3 linked regions of the Homo sapiens genome follow. The protein of the gene in region 2 purifies or fractionates together with the protein of the main gene of each other region. This does not show direct contact. Each region holds a gene or a part of one and is shown on either strand. Other genes may lie near its edges.

Region 1 (7,118 bases), on a different chromosome or scaffold from region 2:
AAGTATACGATTTCCTGGAGAGGATTTTTTTTTTCCTTTATCAATTGTAGAAAACAACTTTTTTTTTTTTTTTTTTTTTTTTTTTTTTTTTGAGACGGAGTCTCGCTCTGTCGCCCAGGTTGGAGTGCAGTGGCGGGATCTCGGCTCACTGCAAGCTCCGCCTCCCGGGTTCACGCCATTCTCCTGCCTCAGCCTCCCAAGTAGCTGGGACTACAGGCGCCCGCCACTACGCCCGGCTAATTTTTTGTATTTTTAGTAGAGACGGGGTTTCACCGTTTTAGCCGGGATGGTCTCCATCTCCTGACCTCGTGATCCGCCCGCCTCGGCCTCCCAAAGTGCTGGGATTACAGGCGTGAGCCACCGCGCCCGGCCAGAAAACAACTTTTAAAGCTGGGATTACAGGCATGCACCACTGCACCCAGCTGGAAAAGGCTTTAGGTATCAAACCAACTGTGTAAGACAGTTCAAGATAGCAATAAAAAGACTGTGTGGCAAAGGAATTTCTGGTCCTTAGGGAAATGGCAGCTCATCTAAATGCCCAGCTGGATGGATTATTTGTGTATTTGTGAATAAACTAGCTTGTTTCTACCTTTTCAGTGATTCATTTCTGGGGATCATTAGAGAAGCCTTTTGGAGAAAGCACACTTCATACCTCCTTTGTGACCTTTGAAGGTCACCACGCAGCTAGCATCTTCAGCTGACCATATCTTCAGCTGGGCATCCATTCCCCCACTCAGGACCACAAGGCCTGATGGGAAAAACCTGCAACAATTCACATCAAACACATGTCCTTCCAATACTCTCTGGAAAAACAAAAGAAAATTCCATGCTAGTTCTCTTGTCCATCCCTTGATGTTCTCTTACCTCCCATACTCTGGTCCCTTATATGAAATACCTACATGCTAAACCCACATGCTGGGTTTTAAAACTAAGGATATCCAAAGGATCTCTTAGCTCATTTGTCTAGCAGGCAGTGTTCTAAAAGGTGTTTCCTCGAATTCAGCTATAGAGGTTATAGAACTGAATTCCATGTAAAAACACCCCAGAGCCTAGGTTAAAAAAAAAAAAAAAGAATTCCATGGCTTTCACAGCCATCTCTAGATCTAGTTAAAGAGCTGAGGTGGCTTGGGGACTTTTTCACTCATCTCTGTTTAAAATCCTTTGTAAAGGTTGGAGGCTCAGCCATAGATTCAGTCTAACAGCCAAGCTATTCTGTCTTGGAAATGGATCACTGAAGGCAATTAAAAAACAAGGGCACACCCACTTAGACCTTCACTGGTCTGGCTCCTTAACTGCTCCAGCCCCACTCTGTTCTGCCAAATCACTGAGCTTGAGAAAGGTTCTCGAATTGACAGCTGAGAGGCCAGGAGCGGTGGCTCACACCTGTAATCCCAGCACTTTGGGAGGCCAAGGTGGGCAGATCACTTGACGTGAGGAGTTGGAAACCAGCCTGGCCGACATGGCGAAAGCCCATCTCTACTAAAAATACAAAAATTAGATGTGTGTGGTGGCACATGCCTGTAATCTCAGCTACTTGGGAGGCTGAGGCACAAGAATCGCTTGAACCCAGGAGGCGGAGGTTGCAGTGAGCTGAGATCACACCACTGCACTCCAGCCTGGGCAACACAGCAAGACTGTCTCAAAAAAAAAAAAAAAAAAAAAAAGAGAAAAAGAAAAAGAAACACACAAATGGGAGAAAAGAGATCAACTGACATGCAGAGTGGTCCCACATTTTTAGAATGGGCCATTCTTCCTTCCATGTCCCAGTCCAAGGCTTCTCAGACCACCCTTTGTGTTTAAGACCTAAAAGTACATCCAAATCCTTTACCCTGAGTTCTCCATTGGAAGCCTGCCAGATTTTCATGGTCCCGTCAGTACTAGAAGACACACCAAGACCTCCTCTGCTGGAAATGTCCAGGCATGTTATCTGTTCAAAGAGAAAACAAACAATGTGTTAGAAATAATGAAATACTCTTATTCCCTTGAAATATGTTATAAACTTCCCTTTTTTCACTCTTCCAAGACTTCCTGAAGCCTGTGTTTCCCAACAAAAGGACTTGTGTTTGATGTAAAGGTTGAGTTATCATCACCAACCTCCCAACAAGGCTGAAGTAAACACCTTTTACTTCTTCAAACAAAAAGATATTCCTCTAATCATCTGAAGTCTAATGCTTCAGCTAAAAAGTTTTCCCTATCCCCATTTCATTTCCATAGTTTCCATGTGTTGCATTTATTTATTTGTTTGTTTGTTTGTTTGTTTGACAGAGTTTCACTCCCATCACCCAGGCTGGAGTGCAATGTCCCCATCTCAGCTCACTGCAACCTCTGCCTCCCAGGCTCAAGTGATTCTCCTGCCTCAGCCTCCCGAGTAGCTGGGACTACAGGCGCACACCACTGTGCCTTATTTCTGTATTTTTCGGTAGAGACAGAGTTTCACCATGTTGCCCAAGTTAGTCTCAAACTCCTGAGCTCAAGTGATTCTCCCATCTCAGCCTCCCAGAGTGCTGGGATTATAGGCCACCGTGCCCAGCCCTGCTATTTTATTTTAAAATTAAGACCAGGTGCAGTGGCTCACACCTGTGTAATCCCAACACTCTGGGAGGCCAAGGCAGGAAGATTACTTGAGCCCAGGAGTTCGAGACCAGCCTGGGCAATATAATGAGACTCCATCTCTACAAAAAATTTTAAAGTAAATATAAAAAATAAAAAGAAAATTAAGATACCTCTCCTAATTCTTAGGAACCCACTTACACAAAAGATAATGTTCTAAGATGCACCAGGAGGATTCAAGAGTTCAGCTATTCCTCTCCCTCTCCCTCTCCTTCTCCCTCTCCCTCTCCCTCTCCCTCTCCCTCCCCCTTCCCCTCCCCCTCCCTCTCCCCACGGTCTCCCTCTCCCTCTCTTTCCACGGTCTCCCTCTGATGCCCAGCTGGACGGTACTGCTGCCATCTCAGCTCACTGCAACCTCCCTGCCTGATTCTCCTGCCTCAGCTTGCCGAGTGCCTGCAATTGCAGGCGCGCGCCGCCACGCCTGACTGGTTTTCGTGTTTTTTTGGTGGAGACGGGGATTCGCTGTGTTGGCTGGGCTGGTCTGCAGCTCCTAACCATGAGTGATCCGCCAGCCTCGGCCTCCCGAGGTGCCGGGATTGCAGACGGAGTCTCGTTCACTCAGTGCTCAATGGTGCCCCAGGCTGGAGTGCAGTGGTGTGATCTCGGCTCGCTACAACCTCCACCTCCCAGCAGCCTGCCTTGGCCTCCCAAAGTGCCGAGATTGCAGCCTCTGCCCGGCCGCCACCCTGTCTGGGAAGTGAGGAGCATCTCTGCCTGGCCGCCCATCTTCTGGGATGTGAGGAGCCCCTCTGCCTGGCTGCCCAGTCTGGAAAGTGAGGAGCCTCTCTGCCCGGCCGCCCAGTCTGGAAAGTGAGGAGCCTCTCTGCCCGGCCGCCATCCCATCTAGGAAGTGAGGAGCGCCTCTTCCCGGCCGCCATCACATCTGGGAAGTGAGGAGCGTCTCTGCCCGGCCGCCCATCGTCTGAGATGTGGGGAGCACCTCTGCCCTGCCACCCTGTCCGGGATGTGAGGAGCGTCTCTGCCCGGCCGCCCCGTCTGAGAAGTGAGGAGACCCTCTGCCTGGCAACCGCCCCGTCTGAGAAGTGAGGAGCCCCTCCGCCCAGCAGCCACCCCGTCTGAGAAGTGAGGAGCCCCTCCGCCCAGCAGCCACCCCGTCTGGGAAGTGAGGAGCGTCTCCGCCTGGCAGCCACCTCGTCCGGGAGGGAAGTGGGGGGGTCAGCCCCCCACACGGCCAGCCGCCCCGTCCGGGAGGGAGGTGGGGGGGGTCAGCCCCCCGCCCGGCCAGCCGCCCCGTCCGGGAGGGAGGTGGGGGGGTCAGCCCCCCGCACGGCCAGCCGCCCCGTCCGGGAGGTGAGGGGCGCCTCTGCCCGGCCGCCCCTACTGGGAAGTGAGGAGCCACTCTGCCCGGCCAGCCGCCCCGTCTGGGAGGTGAGGGGCGCCTCTGCCCGGCCGCCCCTACTGGGAAGTGAGGAGCCCCTCTGCCCGGCCAGCCGCCCCGTCCAGGAGGGAGGTGGGGGGGTCAGCCCCCCCGCCCGGCCAGCCGCCCCGTCGGGGAGGGAGGTCTGGGGGGTCAGCCCCCCCGTCCGGCCAGCCGCCCCGTCCGGGAGGTGAGGGGCGCCTCTGCCTGGCCGCGCCTACTGGGAAGTGAGGAGCCCCTCTGCCCGGCCACCACCCCGTCTGGGAGGTGTACCCAACAGCTCATTGAGAACGGGCCATGAGGACAATGGCGGTTTTGTAGAATAGAAAGGGGGGAAAGGTGGGGAAAAGATTGAGAATCGGATGGTTGCCGTGTCTGTGTAGAAAGAGGTAGACATGGGAGACTTTTCATTTTGTTCCGTACTAAGAAAAATTCTTCTGCCTTGGGATCCTGTTGATCGGTGACCTTACCCCCAACCCTGTGCTCTCTGAAACATGTGCTGTATCCACTCAGGGTTGAATGGATTAAGGGCGGTGCAAGATGTGCTTTGTTAAACAGATGCTTGAAGGCAGCATGCTCCTTAAGAGTCATCACCACTCCCTAATCTCAAGTACCCAGGGACACAAACACTGCGGAAGGCCGCAGGGTCCTCTGCCTAGGAAAACCAGAGACCTTTGTTCACTTGTTTATCTGCTGACCTTCTCTCCACTATTGTCCTGTGACCCTGCCAAATCCCCCTCTGCGAGAAACACCCAAGAATGATCAATAAAAAAAAAAATAAATAAAAAAGAAAAAAAGAAAAAAAGAAACATCGTAAAAAAAAAAAAAAAGAGTTCAGATATTTCCACATATACCTATATATAGGTATAGCTATAGAAAATATACAGATATAGATCTTTCAGAATAAAGAATAGAGAAATTTCAGATTCACTTTTTGTTTTCCAAACTCACTTTTATAGTTTTTGTGTTTTTTTTAAAGACAGGGTCTCACTCTGTTGCTCAGGCTGAAGTGCAGGGGCATGATTACAACTCACTACAGCCTTAGCCTCTCAGGAACAAGTGATCCTCCTGCCTGAGCTTCCCAATAGCTGAGATTACAAACATGGGCTGGCATGTCCAGCTAATTTTTTAACTTTTTTTTGGAGAGATGGGGTCCCCCTATGTTGCCCAGGGTGGTCTTGAACTCCTGGGCTCAAGCTATCCTTCTGCCTTGGCCTCCCAAAGTGCTAGGATCACAGGCGTGAGCCACCGCGCCCAGCCTCACTTTTGTAATTTCAGTATCAGCAATCACTTCATGCATAAGCCATTATCAGAATAACAAATCTTTTATACACATGCATACATGTACACTTTTATTAAAAAACAACCAGCTGCAAATGCTCCAGAAATGATGGACCAAGATATGCAATTCCAGACACATTCCCAGCAACAATAATTCCCACATAAGTTATTAAGAAAAAAGTAGGGACTTTGGCTTTAATTATCCAACTTTCCATTTTACTTTGTTCTATGTCAATTAAACCATAATAAATAAGTTTGGGAAGAACTATAGGGATATATCCATCAACTCTAACATTTTCTAAGACTTTTCTTCTTCATTTTGCTTCCTCGGAATAAAAGGACTGCTAACTTAGTAGTGGATCCTTTACTTGTAAGCAACATACTTCAGGTTCTGTCCTGATACAGGTGGTATCTATCCAATTGCTTGCTGGTAGGCAGTGAACACCTAGGCTAGACTGGAAACCTCAAACTGAACATGTCCAAAGAAAACTTTTATTTCCCCTGCCCCATCCCAATACAACTCCTCCTCCTCCAATTAGTAAATGGAACACAATTCACCTACTTCTCAGGCCAAAATTTTTTGAATCATCCCAACTCCTCCTTTTCTCTCATACTTAACATCCAAGTCATCAGCAAATCACGTCTAGTCCCACATCTCTAGCATGTAAGATCTATAAGGGCAGTTTTATTTATTTTATTCAGTATCCAGAAGACTGGCTGAAATATAGTAGGTGATTAATAAATGGATGAATCATCTTTCAGTAAGCTCAAATAAAAAGAGAATAAGAAATAGAAAAGGAGCACAGTTATGTTTGTTTTTGAGACATGGTCTCACTCTGTCACCCAGCCTGGAATGCAATGGCACAATCACAGCTCACTGCAGCCCTGACCTCCTAGGCTCAAGCAATCCTTCCATCCCAGCCTCTCGAGCAGCTGGGACTACAGGCACACACTACCACATCCAGCTAATTTTATTTTTTGAGACAGAGTCTTGCTCAGTAACACAGGCTGGAGTGCAGTGGCGCAACCTCGGCTCACTGCAACCTCTGCCTCCTGGGTTCAAGCGATTCTTGTGCCTTAGCCTCCGGAGTAGCTGGGATTACAGGCGTGTGCCACCATGCCCAGCTGATTTTTTTTTTATTTTTATTTTTTTTAGTAGATTTTTTTTTATTATTATACTTTAAGTTTTAGGGTACACGTGCACAATGTGCAGGTTAGTTACATATGTATACATGTGCCATGCTGGTGTGCTGCACCCATTAACTCGTCATTTAACATTAGGTACATCTCCTAATGCTATCCCTTCCCTCCGATTTTTATATTTTTAGTAGAGATGGGGTTTCATTATGTTGGCCAGGCTGGTCTTGAATTCCTGGCCTCAATTGATCTGCCCACCCCAGCCTCCCAAAGTGATGGGATTACAGGTGTGAGCCACTACAACCAGCCTATTTTGTTTATTTTTTTGTAGAGACAAGGTCTCACTATGTTGCCTAGGCTGGTCTCAAACTCCTGGGCTCAAGTGATCCTCCTGCCTTGGACTCCCAGAGTGCTGGGTACAGGCATGGGCCACTGTGCCTAGCCTGTAAATGATTTTTAAAATGACTTACTTCTCAAAAGGTGAGCGGCATTCCCAACTCTCCCAAGAGGTGAATTGCCTTCTCCCTCAGTTAAAGCAGAAAATAATAAAAAATGATGTATAAAGGCCAGGCACAGTGGCTTATACCTATAATCCCAGCATTTTGGGAAGCCAAGGAGAGAGGACTGCTTGAAGTCAGGAGTTTGAGACCAGCCTGGGCAACAGAGCAGGACTCCACCGCTACAAAAAATAAGAATAAAAATTTTTAAGCCA
Region 2 (7,187 bases):
TATGGTGCTAGCTATGGTAAGGGAAAGGGACCTTTCCGAAAAACATCTTTTGGGGAAATAAAAATGTGGACTGTGCGAGGATCACTGTGGCTTTGTGGGATGGGGTACTGCAGCGGGCCTCTACCCATAAGTCAGATGAGCATTCTTGACACGGCTTTCCTGTTTGAGGTTAGAGAGGAGAGAGAAACACACCACTTGTACGTTTTATCAACTGCCAAGATCCTTTATTTTTTCCAGGCCCCTTCCTGCCCACTCCACATCGGGGCAGCTCCAGCATAAGGGAGATGACATGATGAAGGGGCTAAGAGTAGGGCCTGGCCAGCATCCACTGAGGGCCCAACCAGGGAACAGTTGCTAGCCGCTCTCTTCCATGCAGCTGGAGCACTAGCAAGGCCTTCCAGAGGCTCCCAGGGCGACCTCCACATCACTCCCGCTTGTCTCTGCCCTCCAGGGTGCTCCGGGCCTCCTCTCCCTGTGTACCCTAGAGGTGTGAGGGCCACAGTCCTCCTCAGGTGAACCTCCCTCCCCAAGCCCAGGGCCCTAGCACAGGCTGCAGTTGGACGGCTTCGAGCTGCGGCTCTGGGCCTAGAGCAAAGAGAGGGGAAGGAGGGGAAGACACAGTGCAACGTCAAGGAAATGAGGGACAGCCCTCATTTCAGAGCTCAGCATGGGCTGGAGTCATACTGAAAACCAGACGATAACCACCATTCCAAAACTCTGCACCACTAGGAAGAACCCCCATCCCTGACTTCTTCCTCCCTTCCACTGCAGCATATATCTTCAGCCCAGCCTCATACCTGCTGCCGCTGGTATTCTGCCTCACTGGCTGACAGTGCTTGTGCTAAAGCTAGGTCTTCTTCCTCCTGACAACTGGGAGGGAGAAACAGTTTAAGTTGGATGATGGTAAGATCTGAAATTTGAACATCTGATCTGTGTGTGTTGGGCCTCATGGTGCTGAGCACTGCTGAGGATTATCTCAATCTTCATAGCAACACTACAAGGTGGGTATTAGTATTGTCCCCGTTTTATAGAGGAAATGAAGGCTCCATGGGTTAAATAACTTGTCAAAGATCATATAGTTCATCTTAATTTTGAGACCAAGTTGCCAGCGATTATCTTGCATTGTGTCAGAGTGGTCCCACCTACCTGCCTCCAGACCAAGCCCTTGCCCACAGCTTGCGCTCTCTTTCACAAGAGGGTAAGGTACCTTGGAACCTGGGGTTTGGTTTCTGCCAGGGACATTTCCAGGGCCCGCTGCAGAGCTTCATCCTCACTCTACAAAGGGAGAAAGAAGACCAGCGTCCTTGGACTTCACTCTCTGTGTGTTTGTTTCTGTCCATCCAACCTCTGCCCAACTCACCAGGCCATTCTGCAAAGCAATCACTGGAGGGGCTGTCCAGGACGGAGATCGGGTTGTGGCTCTACGACAGACATTGAAGAGGTGGAGGTCAGAGGTGTGAAGGGGAAAAAGGGGGAGCAGGGAAACGGGCAGGCCTACCTGCTGGGAGAGGTACAGGAAGGCATGGTTTGACTTGGGCTGGGGACAGTGCTTGTAGAAGCCACAGCTTGTGCTCTGGAGATGGCAGCAAGTCTGTAGGGAAGAGAGATTTTTGGCATGTCTCCAAGAACTAGCCTTACCCAGGAAGTCAGGAGGGGAGTTCTGGAAAAACATGCACTTGAAAAGGAAGCTAAAAGACTCCCCTAGCCGACAGGGTAGGGTTGAAGCTCCCCAATTTATAACAACAGAGCTTGAGTCAGTTCCAAAAGAATGCTTCCCAAAAGCAAGTGGAGGACTTGGCTGCCATTACCCTGCCCGGCTGGTTGGGTGCCCCTCCCCAGAGCAATCATGGTCCAGTGGATGCCGGTGCTTGATGCAGAAGTTTCGGCTACAGCGTTCACAGGTCAGTTTCATCATTTCTCGCTGCCGGCAGCCAGCGCGTTCACACTTATTGGTGAAGATCTGAGGTGAAGTGAGAAGGTTGTCTCTGCTGAGACTCTGATTAGCTGTTTGGGTTTCCAGGCATCCGTAGTCCCAGCTGGGTTGTGGCTGACCCCTACAATGTTTACCTTACGTTTTTGCTGTGCTGGATCAGAGCGACAGTCTCTGTCAATGTGCTCTCCCACAGCACGGTCAGGGGGCTCCCCTCTGGCCACAGGCACAGGCACATTACAGAGAGGGCACACAGGTACCTGGATATCCTGTAGTCAAGGAGCAAGGGTCAGTCTGTGGCCCACTCCAGTCCAACAAATCTCTGGTCCTGAAAGAACTTGGATATGACCCACCACAAACACGCAAAAAAACAGTGTTTCCCAGCACTGACAGCCTCAGAAGGACAAAAGGGAGAAGAAACGTGAGACACAGATTTGGGGGATTCTGCACGCATTCTCCATCTGCCTGCTTTCACCCTGAGGATCGCCCCCTCACCTTTTGGTAAGCAGATCCACAGTGATGCTGGGCGTAGGCCACATGGTCTGCGCAGAAGATGCCTGAGCAGGCATCACACTTAAGCGGCAGAAAATCTGCAAAGAGTTGGTCGGATTGCAGGTCCAGCGGGACCTCGATGTCCTTCTCTCTCACTCAAGTCTTCCACTCGGGAAGGAAAACGCCACCCTATTTTCGACACACCGCCCCTTCCCAAGCCCATTACCTCCTTGGCCACGCCCCCTCTGCCGCTGACCACCCCCCCCCAGCTTCAAGCCCCGCCCCCCGGCATTGCCAGCCTGGGAGCCCACCCTTCCCTCCCAACCTGCGGTTCAAAGTCCCTGTCCGCTGGGCCCCGCCCCCCGCGCGCTCCGCCCCTCACCCAAGCGCTGACAGCTCGGCTCCGAACAGTGAGCGCCGAGGTCCGGAAACTCCATCGCCAAGCCGGGCAGGGTCTGCTAGGAGAAGCGACGAGTGCTGAGCGTCTTTAGGGCTCGTGCTCGAAGTCCGCACCGCGACCCCGCACTCTGGCGGGCTCCCTGCCCCGCCCCTTCCTCTCCCCCGCCCAGCCCGGGTTACCGGAGCCCCCGCGCCAGCCGGCCCCCGGCGCCCGCTCCTCCCTCGGCGCGCGCGGCGCGCTGACGTCATCCCGCAGGGCTGGCGCGTCCGGCGCAGTCTCCGGGCAGCCGGGGAGGGCCTCGGTTGAGCCCCGCCCCGCCTCGCCTTGCTCTAGAAGGCTGAGTCGGAAGACTGTCCCGAGGCGAGAGGGTGTTGATGCGCGGCTCCGCCACCCTGGGCGCGGGCGTAGCTCCGCAGAGGAAGGCCAGCGAAGGCAAAGACGGATATCTTGGGGGATGGAAGGCTGGGTGGTTTGGGGTCTTTCACAATTCGGTCCTTAGCCCGCTTCACACACGATGCCCTCCTCCTGGCCATTTTGTTCACGGCCACGGCTGCCCTTCGCCTCCACGAGCTGACAGCTCCTGTATTTCTCTGAAGTACAGACGTCTCTAGAGCTGCAGATCCCTCCTCAGTCTGAACTAGGCGCACCTGCTATGTGATCTTACTTCTTCCATTCTAGCACCCATATCACTAATGCGACCAACCCCTATATGAGCATACTGGGAAATCAGGAACCACGTCTACCTTGTTTCGTGTTAGGTCCCAGCACCTAACAGTGCCTAGAACAGTGTGGTCCTCAGTCTTTAGTGTGAATCCAAATCGCCTACGGAGCTAGTTTAAAATGCGGATTTCCGGGCCCTGGAGCTTCTAATTCAGTAGGAAGCACCTGAAGGAATTCTGACACAGATTGCCATGCACCACACTCTGAAAAACCCTAGCCTAGAATATTCTTAGTAATTATTGAATGTAGCCAGGACTACAGGCACAAGCCACCGTGCTCAGCTAATTTTTAATTTTGTAGAAATGGGGTTGGGGAGGGGTCTCTCTTTGTTGCCCAGATTGGTCTCGAACTCCTGGCCTTAAGTGATCCTCCTGCCTTGGCCTCCCAAAGTGCTGGGATTACAGACGTGAGCCACCACACCTGACCAATATAATTTTTTTTTTTTTGAGACACAGTGTCACTCTTGTCACCCAGGCTGGAGTGCAGTGGCATGATCTCGGCTCACTGCAACCTCTGCTTCCCGGGTTCAAGCGATTCTCCTGCCTCAGCCTCCCAAGTAGTTGGGACTACAGGTGCACACCACTGCGTCCAGCTAATTTTTGTATTTTTAGAGACGGCGTTTCACCATGTTGCCCAGGCTGGTCTCGAACTCCTGACCTCGTGATCTGCCCGCCTCGGCCTCCCAAAGTGCTGGGATTACAGGCATGAGCCACCACTCCCAGCCAATATTCTTTTTATTTTAAATTGCATCCAGGACTTTATAAATGCTTTTATTTTGTTTCAATATATAACTGTCAGATTTCAAATAATTTTTTCCCAGTCTCATTATAATCATTTGGTTCTAAGAATTTTGTTTATTCATTTTTTTTCCTCTCTATATTCATCAGTACAATTTAGAATTGTAGGCTTCCAGTCCCGGCATGGTGGCTGACGCTTGTAATTTCAGCACTTTGGGAGGCTGACGCAGGAGGATCGCTTGAGCCTAGGAGTTCCAGCCTGGGCAACATAGTGAGACCCTGTCTCTACAAAAATAGAAAGAATTGTAGGCTTTCAGTTTGGAGAAACGTGTATGGAGCAGACTAAACAAAGATAAACACTGCCTCTCTCCCCACTCCCACTTTACAAATGCTCAGATAACCAAAGCCTTGTGGAACTCAAAAAATAAAAATCTTCGGATCTCATTTTTGAGCATGAGCCAGAATGCTTGAAGTGCAAATGTAGTCATTTGTTCTTATGTTGCTATACAGAAATACCTCGCTAGGCATGGTGGCTCATGCCTGTAATCCCATCCCTCGGAGGCCAAGGTGGGAGGGTCACTCGAGTCCAGGAGTTTGAGACCAGCCTGGGCAACATAGTAAGACCTCCCTCTCTACAAAAAAAATTTTTAAAAAGTTAGCTGGGCATGGTGGCATCCACCCGTTGTCCCAAATACTCGAGAGGCTTTGGTGGGAGGATTGCTTGAGCCTAGGAGCTCGAAGTTGCAGTGAGCTATGATTGTACCACTGTGCTTCAGCTGGATAACAAAGTGAGACCCTGTCTTTAAAAAAAAAAAAAAATCTGAGGCTGGTTGATTTATAAAGAAAGAGGTTTAATTTATTCATGGTTCTGCAGACTGCATAGGAAGCATGGTGCCAGCATCTGCTCAGCTTCTGGTGAGGCCTCAGGAAGCTTCTAATCATTGCAGAAGGCCTAGGGGGAACAGGCATGTCACATGGCAAGAGTGGGAGCAAGAGAGAGAAGAGGGAGGTCCCAGAGTCTTTTCAAAACCAGATCTGATGTGAACTGAGTGAGAATTCACTCATCACCAAGAGGATGGCACTAAGCCATTCATGAGGGGTCCACTCTCAGGTTCCAATCACCTCCTGCCAGGTCCCACCTCTGACATTGGGAATACATTTCTTTTTCTTTTCTTTTTTTTTTTTTTTTTTTCTTTTTTGAGACAGAATCTCACTCTGTCGCCCAGGCTGGAGTGCAGTGGCACAGTCTCAGCTCACTGCAACCTCCGCCTCCCGGGTTCATACCATTCTCCTGCCTCAGCCTCCCAAGTAGCTAGGATTACAGGCGCATGCCACCACGCCCGGCTAATTTTTTGTATTTTTAGGAGAGATGGGGTTTCACCGTGTTAGCCAGGATGGTCTCGATCTCCTGACCTCGTGATCCGCCCGCCTCGGCCTCCCAAAGTGCTGGAATTACAGGCATGAGCCACTGCGCCCGGCGGGAATACATTTCAACATGAGATTTGGAGGGGACACATATCCAGACCATATCATGCCATAACAGACTTACCTCAGAGACCCCAGCGACCACGATAAAAGTGAATGAAGCTCTCACGGTAGTATCTCTCTTCCCAGGCAAATATTTTTCTGACTGATGGGTTATAGTCCTGACTAAGCTCTCTGTGCTGATTACCAGCCCAGGGGCTTTCTCACTGGGTGATGTTCTCATCCCACGATTTAAAAAGAGTGCCCGCACAAACCAAAGTCACCATTCCCCAATGTAGCCTCCTTGCTTCCTGAATAAAAGAAGCCAGGAGAACACTGAGAGAGAAATCAAATAACATTTTGCAACTTGAATTAGCTATTTTAGGAGATATCAATTAACAACTGAGCATTACTTAAGTCTCTTTTATTGTAGACCAACAAAGCATACACAGACCTGCTAAGCAGCCTTGCGCTTTAGCTGTGGGTAACTGAGCTGCAGCCTCTCATTGGGACAGTAGACATAGGTTCCTCTAAAATTCGCAGGCATAGTCATAGCCAGACGCCAGTTATTTTAGCTTTAGCAGGTCTAAAGCAGACAAGGTCAAACTGAGGATAGCCAGAAAAGGTGTCTTGGCTCCAATTCAACTTGAATATTAGTTTAATGGTATTTGTCTCAGTGGTTTTCCGCCTCTCAATTGACTCTTAGTGAAACAGTGCATATAGAAATGGAAGGAAAAGGCCAGGCACGATGGCTCATGCCTATAATCCCAACACTTTGGGAGGCTGAGGTGGGCAGATCACCAGAAGCCAGGAGTTCAAGACCACCCTGGCCAACATGGTGAAACCCTGTCTTTACTAAAAATACAAAAATCAGCCAGGCATGGTGGCAACAGAGCGAGACTATGTCTCAATTAATAAAGAAACAGGAAAAAAAAGAAATGGAAAGAAAAACTAGCACTTATTGTTGTGTCCTGCTCTTCCTCATGTGTTAGCTTATTTAATCCCCTGTGAAAATCCTTTGAAGTAGGCCGGGCACGGTGGCTCACGCCTGTAATCCCAGCACTTTGGGAGGCCAAGGCGGGCAGATCACAAGGTCAGGAGATCGAGACCATCCTGGCTAGCACGGTGAAACCCTGTCTCTACTAAAAATACAAAAAATTAGCTGGGCGTGGTGGCGGGCACCTGTGGTCCCAGCTACTCGGGAGGCTGAAGCAGGAGAATGGCGTGAACCCAGGAGGCGGAGCTTGCAGTAAGCCGAGATTGTGCCACTGCACTCCAGCTTGGGCAACAGAGTGAGACTCTGTCTCAAAAAAAAAAAAAAAAAAAGAAAGAAAATCTTTTGAAAAAGATATCATGTATCCCCATTTTGCAGATAAAAAATCTGAAGTTGAGAGAGATTAAATTACTTGCTACGAAGTCAGAATCTGGACCTAAATTTTTGTAT
Region 3 (4,311 bases), on a different chromosome or scaffold from region 2:
ATGAGCCTGGTGGTAGATTGTTTGAAGAGATGGATCCTCTCTTGCAAAGGAAGCTCTGGAAAAGTGCATTCTCTTACTGTACTGTCTCTCTAAATTTAGCTAATTAGATCACAGGTTCCTTCCCAGAGTCCAGGCAAGTGTTCACTTCTTCCAAAAAACGAAAAAAGGAATCCTTTTCCCTCTCCTCCCACAATGTGATACTACATTTCATTCTGTAGCCTTATTTAAACAGTTACCAAAACAGCTCACAAAATCATTTGAGAATAAACTGGGATACATAGCAATGGGCCCAGGAGTCCCCTTCCTTTTGGTGCTGCCAGTGACAACCTTTAGCTATAAAAGGAGGGTCATAAAGGAGACTTGACCATTCACTTGACCACCCCTCATTCATATGCTTTCCCCAACACACCAAACTAGTGCCTATTTGACCCCCATTTCATTTGATTATTAATTTTTTCACATCTTAAATGCTGATTCAATTTACTGTCAATAGAGGAGTAAAACAGAGTCACAGAGAAGGAGTTATTCTAAACCTTTATTGAAAGGCAAATGCAGAAAGCCTTCAACACAGAGGATAGATTTAGTGACTGAGGGCCCACTGGAGTTTAACTAATAGATCTGCTGACTACGCCGTACAGTGGAGGAAACACGCTGCAATCTCAAGACAATGCAGGTAACTCAATCTGAAATCCATCAAAAAGAGGACAACTTGCTCAGGTACAAGGCCCCTGAAAAGTAACTCATCAAATGACAATAGGAACTGTGTGGACACTCCCTCTGTAACATGCACTAGGATATCACTCTCCTATATTAGAGGAGCTCCAAGCAGTGTATCATGCTCAAATATTTATTAATTGACAGTGTCCGACAACCTCCTGTCCATAAAGCATGGCAGAGTGGGTAATTAATTGGAAAGAGTTGGCAGTAGAACTTTAAGAACAATTATACCTTCTACATCTTACCACTCCCCATTCCTAGTGACAACTTTCTCATCTCGGCGAATTCTCTTGTGTACTGTTTCTGGAACATATATTACTAAATTCCTGTCTCCTTTACAAAATGCTGTATCTTGGGCAAAAGACATATGTATTGTGCTTGTATTGTGTATCTAATGTGTACATATATGCATATTCTCACAAATATGGTATACATTTATATTATGCATGTGTATGGACATATATCTGCATATTGTAAAATGAAATAGAATTTTTTTTTTCTTGAGATGGAGTCACACTCTGTTGCCTAGGCTGGAGTGCAATGGTGCAAGCTTGGCTCACTGCAACCTCCGGCTCTTGGGCTCAAGCGATTCTCCTGCCTCAGCCTGCCACTCGGCAGGGTGGGATTACAGGTGCTCACCACCAAGCCCGGCTAATTTTTGTATTTTTAGTAGAGATGGGGTTTCACCATGGTGGCCAGGCTGGTCTCAAACTCCTGACCTTAAGTGATCTGCCCACTTTGGCCTCCTACAGTGATGGGATTACAGGCTTGAGCCACCATGCCCGGCCTGAAGTAGAATTTTTTTAAATGAACGGTCGGAGATCGAGCTAAAGGCTATAAAATGGCAGGGTTCTAATCAGCTCAGATTGTTTTCAGTAGAAATGTACGCAAAGTCTTTGGAGTTAAATGATGAACTGCCACTTATTTATTTATTTATTTGTTTATTTTTTGATATGTCTCACTCTTTTGCCCAGGCTGGAGTGAAGTGGAGTGATCTTTGCTTACTGTAACCTCTGCCTCCCTGGCTCCAGCGATCCTCCTGCCTCAGCCTCCTGAGTAGCTGGAATTATAGGCACCCACCACCACATCTTGCTAATTTTGGTATTTTTAATAGAGACAAGGTTTCACCATGTTGGCCACGCTGGTCTCGAACTCCTGAACTCAGGTGATCCACCTGCCTTGGCCTCCCAAAGTGCTAGGATTACAGGCTTGAGCCACCACACCCAGCCTAAACTGCCAGTTTACATCAGTTATAATTTTTTTTTGTTTTTTTGAGACAGGGTCTCACTTTGTTGCCCAGACTGGAGGGCAGTGGCACAACCATGGCTCACTGCAGCTTCAAGTAATCTTCCCACCTCAGCCTCCCAGGTAGCTAGGACTACAGGTGCATGCCACCACGCCCAGCTAATTTTTCGTATTTTTTGTAGAGATGGGGTTTTGTCATGTTGCCCAGGCTAGTCTCGAACTTCTGAGCTCAAGTGATCTACCTGCCTCGGCTTTTCAAAGTGCTGGGATTACAGGTATGAGCCACCATGCCCAGCCTCAGTTACAACTTTTTTTTTTTTTTTGAGATGGAGTTTCCCTCTTGTTGCCCAGGCTGGAGTACAATGTTGCAATCTCAGCTCACTGCAACCTCCGCCTTCCAGGTTCAAGCAATTCTCCTGTCTCAGTCTCCCAAGCAGCTGGGATTACAGGCATGTGCCACCACGCCCGGCTAATTTTTTGTATTTAGTAGAGACACAGCTTGTTTCACCATATTGGCCCGGCTGGTCTCAAACTCCCGATCTCAGGTGATCCACCTGCCTCGGCCTCTCAAGGTGCTGGGATTATAGGCATGAGCCACTGTGCCTGGCAGTTATAACTCTTAAAGCAACACAAGGCTCTTGGTAGCCTGATTACAATGAGAATTAATTAAGTACACTATTTTCCACAGTACACTCCCACGAAGTTTTTAGTGCTGCCATAATGTTTGTAGTAAAAAGAATCAACATTTTCAATTTGTTTTTTGGGGTTTTGTTTGTTTTGTTTTGTTTAGGCAAGGTCTTGATCTGTCACCCAGGCTGGAGTGCAGTGGTGCAATCACAATTCACTGCAGCTTCAATTTCCTGGGCTCAAGTCATCCTCCCATCTCAGCCTCCTGATAGCTGAGACTACAGGCGTGCAATTTAAAAAAAAATTATTTTGTGGAGTCTGGACCTCACTACATTGCCTAGAACGGTCTCAAACTCCTGGGCTCAAGAGATCCTCCTGCTGCAGCCTCACAAAGTGTTGGGATCACAGGCGTAAGCCACTTCACCTGGCCTTGATTCTTTTTAAGCTCAATAAAAATGGAACTTTGTCTTGCTGTCATGGCCAGAGTTAAAATACAGTCAAACAACAAAGACCTCATAGAGTTAAAGCTCACAAAACTGATACTTAAAAATAACTTATTAAATAAGTATTGCAGGCACTACAACAGGTCTCAAGATACAGTGGTGAGCAAGAAAAACAGGATCTCTTGCTTTCATGAAGTTCAACTAGAAAGTCCTGTCGAATGATGAGACATCTTTCTTTGGGGCAGCAAGTTACTTTCACTTAGTGGTAAAAGGGCCAAGAATAGTTCAGGAACTTCTCATCCACTTGTCTACCCTTCTACACAGACAGCAGCACAGATCTGGCTTTTTACATGGCCCTAGGCCGGGTGCAGTGGCTCACGCCTGTAATCCCAGCACTTTGGGAGGTGGAGGAGTTCAAGACCAGTTCAAGACCTCACTTTGGGAGATCAGGAGTTCAAGACCAGCCTGGCCAACATGGTGAAACCCCATCTGTACTAAAAATACAAAAATTAGCTGAGCATGGTGGTGCACACCTGTAGTCTCAGCTACTTGGGAGGCTGAGGCAGGAGAATCGCTTGAATCTGGGAGGCAGAAGTTGCAGTGAGCCAAGATTGCGCCACACTATACTCCAGCCTGGGTGAGAGTCAGACCCCGTCTCAAAAACAACAAAAGGCCCTAGACAACACCCATCCATGGAATTCTTTCAAATTCCCTATAGCTTGTGCTATCAGTTGTTATTTAGTACCTGGCAAGATGATATTAGGGGAACTCATATTTAAGGAGTTCATGGAGACCTCCTTTTGTAAATACTGGCCTGACTCCTTAAGGTTGAAAGCTTGGTCATTATTCTGTTTAATCTATCACTGATAAAAGTTATCACATAACCCATTGTCTGCAAATGAACTATAAAAAACACCTTAGAAATACAAGGGGATTGCACTGTGACCTGTAGGTCAAAGCTAATTCTAGGTGAGAGGGTGAAGAAACAAATATGCTGGTTGTTTTCACCTAAATTCTGATCCTATGAATTTAAAATTCCTTCTCATGCAATCATTTTGTCATGGAATTGATTACAATGAACAAAATCCAAAGTGCTCAGGTCACTGCCTCTTCAGTTTAGTGCTTACACTGTAGGATACACCATCCAAGAGGCTGTAAGGGTGGCCAAGCAAAGGGAAGACAACTTCAGTTGGGGGGGTGGAAGCACAGATTCAATGGAAATAAGGGTATACATCATTTAACAACAAAATCAAGAAAATGCTAAGGATGAAACAGGGTA

The links.
Region 1: the proteins of ZFAND2B (region 2) and PAAF1 purify together in Homo sapiens (affinity purification with mass spectrometry; 3 studies listed by BioGRID and IntAct, with this or other methods). This does not show direct contact.
Region 3: the proteins of ZFAND2B (region 2) and GLUL purify together in Homo sapiens (affinity purification with mass spectrometry; 3 studies listed by BioGRID and IntAct, with this or other methods). This does not show direct contact.

What each region holds. Positions count from the first base shown.
Region 1 is NC_000011.10:73,893,955-73,901,072, reverse strand, and holds part of PAAF1 (proteasomal ATPase-associated factor 1), read right to left. Parts: intron 1,928-7,118; coding exon 1,829-1,927; intron 804-1,828; coding exon 653-803; intron 1-652. UniProt on the Homo sapiens protein: Inhibits proteasome 26S assembly and proteolytic activity by impairing the association of the 19S regulatory complex with the 20S core.
Region 2 is NC_000002.12:219,202,660-219,209,846, reverse strand, and holds ZFAND2B (AN1-type zinc finger protein 2B), read right to left. Parts: upstream 3,066-7,187; 5' UTR 2,860-3,065; coding exon 2,805-2,859; intron 2,521-2,804; coding exon 2,426-2,520; intron 2,200-2,425; coding exon 2,068-2,199; intron 1,961-2,067; coding exon 1,809-1,960; intron 1,592-1,808; coding exon 1,499-1,591; intron 1,422-1,498; coding exon 1,361-1,421; intron 1,276-1,360; coding exon 1,208-1,275; intron 871-1,207; coding exon 798-870; intron 586-797; coding exon 541-585; coding exon of another isoform or gene 225-540; 3' UTR 199-224; downstream 1-198. UniProt on the Homo sapiens protein: Plays a role in protein homeostasis by regulating both the translocation and the ubiquitin-mediated proteasomal degradation of nascent proteins at the endoplasmic reticulum.
Region 3 is NC_000001.11:182,377,577-182,381,887, forward strand, and holds the end of GLUL (glutamine synthetase), read right to left. Parts: 3' UTR 522-4,311; downstream 1-521. UniProt on the Homo sapiens protein: Glutamine synthetase that catalyzes the ATP-dependent conversion of glutamate and ammonia to glutamine.